Linked DNA regions of Homo sapiens. The protein of the gene in region 1 interacts with the protein of each later gene in a pairwise test. Each region holds a gene or a part of one and is shown in the gene's direction. Other genes may lie near its edges.

Region 1 (3,500 bases):
TTTTTTTTTTTTGAGACGGAGTTTCACTCTCTTGTCCAGCCTGGAGTCTAGTGGCACAATCTCAGCCCACTGCAACCTTCACCTCCTGGGCTCAAGTGATTCTCCTGCCTCAGCCTCCTGAGTAGCTGGGATTACAGGCATGTACCACCACACTCGGCTAATTTTTCTATTTTTAGTAAAGTCGGGGTTTCACCATGTTGGCCAGGCTAGTCTCAAACTCCTGACCTCAGGAGATTCGCTGGCCTCTGCCTCCCCAAGTGCTGGGATTATAGGCACGAGCCACCATGCCTTGCAGACAGCTAGATTTTCTAATGTGGATGATAGGAGCATGAAAGAGGAATCGGGCATGAGCCCAAGGTTTTTGATCTTAGCAGCTGTAACCATGCACACTGCTTCAGCTGAGATGACGTTGGTATTGACATAATATTCACTGTGGATATCCAGAGGGTTGTTTTGGCCATATGAAGAATCAGAGACCAATAAGTGGTGGCATCAAATCGATAACTAGACATACTGGATGGGGTATCTGGGAGGGTGTTGATACTGGAGACATCCAATATATGAAAGCTAATGAGTGAACTATGATTAGTTATGGGTCCATTTAGGAGGACATGCTTCAGATTATGGTGGTAAATCTTTTCAGGGGGCAGAAAGGTGTGATTACAGGCTGAGGACTGGATCTCTTACTTACGTCCTCAATTGATGTTATTGGGCTTCCTAAACACCTGAGAGGGTGTGAGTGACCATCATAACAGGACATTTAATACAGTAGAGTTTGGAAGGGGACATAGACATCCAAAGAGATAATAGAGAAGAGATAGATGCATGCAGAAGCACAGGAGTAATTCAGGGAAGATGACACTTAGGCCTGAGTTGGTGCCAAAGTTGTAACTTTTTTGTTTTTTTTTTTTTTTCAGATGGAGTTTCGCTCTTGTTGCCCAAGCTGGAGTGCAATGGTGCCATCTCGGCTCACTGCAACCTCCACCTCCTGGGTTCAAGCAATTCTCCTGCCTCAGCCTCCCAAGTAGCTAGTATTACAGGCACCTGCCACCACAGCAGGCTAATTTTTGTATTTTCGGTAGAGACAGGGTTTCACCATGCTGACCAGGCTAGTCTTGAACTCCTGACCGGGTGATCTGCCTGCCTCGGCCTCAAAGTGCTGGAATTGCAGGCGTGAGCCACTGTGCCTGGCCAGTTGTAACTATTTATCACTGTCTGGACTCATAAACATTTTGAGATGACTTTGGGAGTGCCTGGGGAGTTTCATTCAGCCTGGTGCATATGGGCAGTGAAAAATATGCTCATCTGTGATAGTAGATGTGGTTTGGTTCACAAATCCAGGGGCTGGGCTTTAAACGGCATTAGGTGGACAGAGGAGGGTTGCTACAGCTGAGGTCTCAGCTGGTGCAGCACAAAAGTGAAATAGGGCCATGGCTATCTGAAGCCATATGTGGTTCTGTGTGGCTATGGAGTCATTCCAGGAGACGTTCACAGGATGATTTGGGATTACCACTGCTATTGTAAACCATGGAAATTCTGTGTTAATATTGGATGCTATTTGTATTTGTCAAGCATAGTCTGGATGCTTATCCACATTTTGGTATAAGGCCAGAATTGAAGGCCCAATATGATGTGTCACTTTGACATCTTGTGAAAGTGGGACAACCTTAAAAGGTGTGAGTACAAATCTCATTCCCACTCTGCTCTCTTGAATAATGTATCCTAGCCTAACAGCCCGTTTTATCAAGGTGATAAGGCAGGGTTCCAGGTTGTTATATTTTGTGGTGGGTTTCAATTCCATCCCTACCAGCAGAGTTATGGAAACAAACCATTGCATATTCCCAAGGGAATCATGGGCCGTTATACCCTCTTCATCTTGTGAAATAATTTTATTTGTAGGCGCTGGGTGTGGTGGCTCACCCCTATAATCTCCTCACTTTCAGAGGCCAAGGCTGGTGGATCACTTGAGACCAGAAATTCAAGACCAGCCTGGCCAACATGGTGAAACCCCGTCTCTACTAAAAAAAAAAAATACAGGCCAGGCATGGTGGCTCAAGCCTGGAATCCCAGCACTTTGGGATGCTGAGGTGGGTGGATCAGGAAGTATGGAGATCGAGACCATCCTGGCTAACACAGTGAAACCCCGTCTCTACTAAAAAAAAAAAAATACAAAAAATTAGCCAGCTGTGGTGGTGGGCACCTGTAGTCCCAGCTACTCGGGAGGCTGAGGCAGGAGAATGGCCTGAACCTGGGAGGCAGAGCTTGCACTGAGCTGAGATCATGCTACTGCCCTCCAGCCTGGGGGACACAGCAAGACTCCGTCTCAAAAAAAAAAAATTAGCCGAGTGTAGTGGTACATGGCTGTAATCCCAGCTACTTGGGAGGCTGAGGCACAAGAATCACTTGAACCTGGGAGGCGGAGGCTGCAGTGAGCCATGATTGTGTTCCTGCACTCCAGCCTGGGTGGCAGAGCTAGACTATGTCTCAAAAAAATCCCCCAAAAATAAACTTTTACTTCTGGGGATGCCAGAGAGGGGCTGAAGGTTGGGGAAACTCTGGTGGGGGTGGCCATGGGCATGTGTCTGTACAGTATAAAGAATGATATATATTTAATGAGAGCGAGGTTGTCTGATGGACTCAGGCAGCTGCCTTGGGCTTTACGTGACCTTGGATATCGCTGTTCAGAAGGGGGTGTGGGCTTTTTTTGTTTTTTTTTTTTTTGAGATGGTGTCTCGCTCTGTTGGCCAGGGTGGAGTGCAGTGGTGTGATCTCGGCTCACTACAAACCCCGCCTCCTGGGTTCACGCCATTCTCCGGCCTCAGCCTCCCGAGTAGCTGGGACTACAGGTGCCCACCACCATGCCCGGCTAATTTTTTGTATTTTTAGTAGAGACAGGGTTTCACCATGTTAACCAGCATAGTCTCTATCCCCTGACTGCAAGATCTGCCCGAATCAGTGTCCCAAAGTGCTGGGATTACAGGCGTGAGCCACCGCACCCAGCCCAGAAGGGAGTGGACCTTTTTATGTCAGGACCTCAGCATGGATACCTATTTGTCCACCTACTTCTTGTTGCTGATGGCATTTGACCAGCAGGCCCATGAAGAGACAAAGGCACCAGTGGATGTGGTTTCAACTCCGTGTTGGGGACCTTGGGAGGAGGATGGGCAAGGGTGGGTGTGTGGGAGAGGTGGGTTGTGGTACCTCAGCAGAGGGGCTGCTTGTGGTTTCATCTGTCACTATCATAGCAGGGCACTGTGACCTTTGAAGATGTGGCTGTGAACTTTTCCCAGGAGGAGTGGTGTCTTCTTAGTGAGGCTCAGAGGTGCTTGTACCGTGATGTGATGCTAGAGAACCTGGCTCTCATATCCTCGCTGGGTAAGTTGCTCACGCTCACCTTTGTGACCTGAGCTAGTGTTACTGTTCCCCTGTTTTTCATTGACAGGACTGTCTTTCTCACCTAAGGAGCCTGGACACAGGTTCCTTCTGCACTTCTCTGTGTA
Region 2 (3,500 bases), on another chromosome or scaffold:
ATCAGGAACCTTTGCTGGAAGCTTGTTTCTGATTGGTGAAAGTAAGCCATAACAGTGGAATGCCAAGGAGTAAATACAAAAGTGTAGCAACAACTGAGTTTGCTGTCTCACTACCCTCAGCCTAGGCCAACCTGGACTCCTTCACCCCAAATGAGGTGACCGCTACATTTTATATGAAGACACTGATTTACCATTCAACTGTGATCCATCTTATAACATGGCAATCCAATACAGACAGGAAGATAAAACTCAACAACAGCTAAAATAAAGTGTATTCCCAGGTAAAATAGACAAGTGCTTTAATTTGAAATGGATTCGTCCGATGAGTGTCAGTTACAAGGGCAGAGAAGGTACCAGTGCAGAAGAGCTCTGACTGTGGGCAGTGTCACCAGGTCCCACTAAGTGGCAACACTTGTGCTGGGTGACTTGACCCATCTTGATGTATAAACCCATAGCCAGACAGGACGTGCAAACAGGTCTCATGGTGAATGCGATGCTGTGGAAAATGACATGGAGAATGGCTGTCTCTCAGCTAGGGAGGAGGGTCTTGGTGTCCTAGTAAAGAATGTTCACGTCCTGGAGTTGGTGGTTGGTGTTCTATCTAGGCGATGAGAGAAGGATGCTTTTCCTAATGAGCACCTGGTGGGAATAGAGTCTCTCTTTGCACTTCGCTGGAGGAAGAAATTTCTACCACTTATTTTTTCTTCTTGCTTATAGAATACACATTGCAGAAAAAGGATGAAGTTGACCAGTGAAAAGTTGCCCAAGAACCCCTTTTATGCCTCTGTATCTCAGTATGCTGCTAAAAACCAAAAATTTTTCCAGTGGAAAAAGGAAAAGACTGGTACAAATCCTGATATTTAAGCTTCCCTTGGAAAACACTTTAACAGTTCATTTTGCATGCTAGAGCAAACGAGACAAGAAATAATGTGTTTTATTGATTTCAAGGAAGTGGTTAATCATTAGTCCTTTTGAGTTTTCCCGCAAGAATCTGTGAAATTGCTCATTTATCTGGTAGCAAATCGTCAGTGAGGTCTCACAGATAGTTAGGTCTTGATTTTACTCTCAGGACTTAAGGACATGCTTCTAGAAAACAGAAAGCAGATGTCACGTTTGTTAAAGAGAACAATGCCAGGCTTGACTTGCAATTATTATTTAAATACCTTATCTTCCCTAAAGTCTTAAAAATGTTATATTAGGGATGGGTTGCTCATTTGGTTAGAGGAACTCTCATTAAGGCTCAAATTAAGAATTTAACTCACCTCTCCAGAGAGCTTTGCCCATTGAAGACAAACCAATGCATAGACTTATACCCAGCCCTGCACTGTTAGGGCTCTACTTGGCCATGAGCAGGGTTAGTGTGAAACCAATCAACAAGTATTGTTTGTTGTTGTTGTTGTTGTTTTGAGATGGAGTTTCGCTCTTGTTGCCCAGGCTTGAGTGCAGTGATGCAATCTTGGCTCACCGCAGCCTCCGCCTCCTGGGGTCAAGCTATTCTCCTGCCTGAGTCTCCCGAGTAGCTGGGATTATAGGCATGCACCACCACGCCCTGCTAATTTTGCATTTTTAGTAGAGACGGGGTTTCTCCATGTTGGTCAGGCTAGTCTTGAACTCCCAAACTCAGGTGATCCACCCGCCTCGGCCTCCCAGAGTGCTGAGATTTACAGGCGTGAGCCACCGCGCCCGGCCAGTATTGCTTTATTACACAAGGCACAGTGTTAGGGCCTGTGACCATGACGTTTTTTCAGGTAATATTTCTTCCTTGAGCTAAGGAGGCCAGTTGTAGGAATGAGCACTAGAAAGCAAGAATGTCAACAGTGTTAGATGGATTTTATATGATTCATTACTTCAAGAGAGAAAATTCATATTGTGTGGTTGATGGAATTCCTTACCTTTTTAAAATCAGATTACACCCATGCTAATTTGGTGGATAAGGCATTGCAGCTCTTGAAGGAAAGAATACTGAAAGGAGACACTCTGGCATATTTCCTACGAGGTCAACTATATTTTGAAGAGGTATCATTTTTTGTTTATTCGTTTTCATTTCCTGTAATTCTGTTGTTAGATCCTCAGACAAAAATTTCATGTAGAGTTTCTTACTGTGTTATACTAGGGAAATTCTGTCCAATTACATCGACTATGGCTGTGGCTTTAACAGTAGGATACAGTGCTGCCAGCTTGAGGAGCTACCTGACTTTTCTTCATAAAATCCATGTCATGAAAGCCATTTATGGGAGTCGTTTTAGTATAAAATCCATTTCACACTATAGATTAAAAATCAAATTTTTATATTTTTGCTCAAAATATTTAATAATACAAATTATATTATCAGGCCGGGTGCGGTGGCTCACGCCTGTAATCCCAGTACTTCGGGAGGCCGAGGCAGGTGGATCACCTGAGGTCAGGAGTTGTAGACCAGCCTGGCCAACATGGCTACACCCCATCTGTACTAAAAATACAAAAAAAAAAAAAAAAAAAAAAGTAGCTGGGCATGGTGGCACACATCTGTAATCCCAGCTACTTGGGAGGCTGAGGCAGAGAATCGCTTGAACCCAGGAGGCAGAGGTTGCAGTGAGCTGAGATCGTGCCACTGCACTCCAGCCTGGGCCACAGAGCGAGACTCCCTCTCAAAAAAAAGTATGTTTGTATTACCAGGTATCTTCATATTAATAATAATTGAAGCCTTGATTTTTATCTAGTACTTAGGGGAAGCTTTAGTTGTTCCTGGATAGCATAGGAGGAAATCGCCCTCTTTCTCCACATCTTGTTGGGGTGGCCTGGGAAGTAGACTGAGGAATGGCTATGCCAGCTGTCCCCTCAACTTCAGTAATGTAGTTTCGGTTTTTCATTGACTTCCCCGGGAAGACTTGAAAAGGGACTGACTGTCTTTCACCATTTGTTGACTATTTGGGCAGCTGTTCACCTATATCCCACTTACTCTCTCACTTTTCGATGGCACCTTCGTCTATCCTGGCAACAAATGTTTGCTGAGGGCTCATCGTGCGCCTGTTACTCTGAGGATGGCAGAGCACCATGGCTGAGAGCATGCTTCCTCAGCGTGGGGCATGGGTTCAGATATGGCTGCATTGCTTGTTAACTGTGTGTTTAACTTGGGCACAAACACTTGACCACTTGGTGCCTTTGGGATTACTTTAAGATCATAATAAAAATAATTAAATATCTTCTGGGTGCTTCTAGGGATGGTATGAAGAAGCATTAGAACAGTTTGAAGAAATCAAGGAGAAAGACCATCAAGCAACTTACCAGCTAGGAGTGATGTACTATGATGGGCTGGGGACCACTCTAGACGCTGTAAGTTAATGTCTTGGTCACAGTGGTTAAGATTTCATTGTCAGTGGATTATTGGACACAATTAAAATTATTTATATTTTAATACATATATATATACATATATATATATATATATATATATATATTTTTTTTTTTTTTTTTTTTTTTTTTTTTTTTTGAGACGGAGTCTCGCTCTGTCGCCCAGGCTG

What was found. Proteins that work in one complex are often made in the same cells at the same time.
Region 2: the proteins of ZNF587 (region 1) and LRP2BP interact in binary tests that used the Homo sapiens proteins (3 or more experiments, as listed by UniProt).

What each region holds. Positions count from the first base shown.
Region 1 is NC_000019.10:57,852,859-57,856,358, forward strand, and holds part of ZNF587 (zinc finger protein 587), read left to right. Parts: intron 1-3,245; coding exon 3,246-3,375; intron 3,376-3,500. UniProt on the Homo sapiens protein: May be involved in transcriptional regulation.
Region 2 is NC_000004.12:185,375,425-185,378,924, reverse strand, and holds part of LRP2BP (LRP2-binding protein), read left to right. Parts: exon of another isoform or gene 1-717; 5' UTR 718-738; coding exon 739-844; exon of another isoform or gene 845-1,086; intron 1,087-1,262; exon of another isoform or gene 1,263-1,795; intron 1,796-1,906; coding exon 1,907-2,016; intron 2,017-3,198; coding exon 3,199-3,312; intron 3,313-3,500. UniProt on the Homo sapiens protein: May act as an adapter that regulates LRP2 function.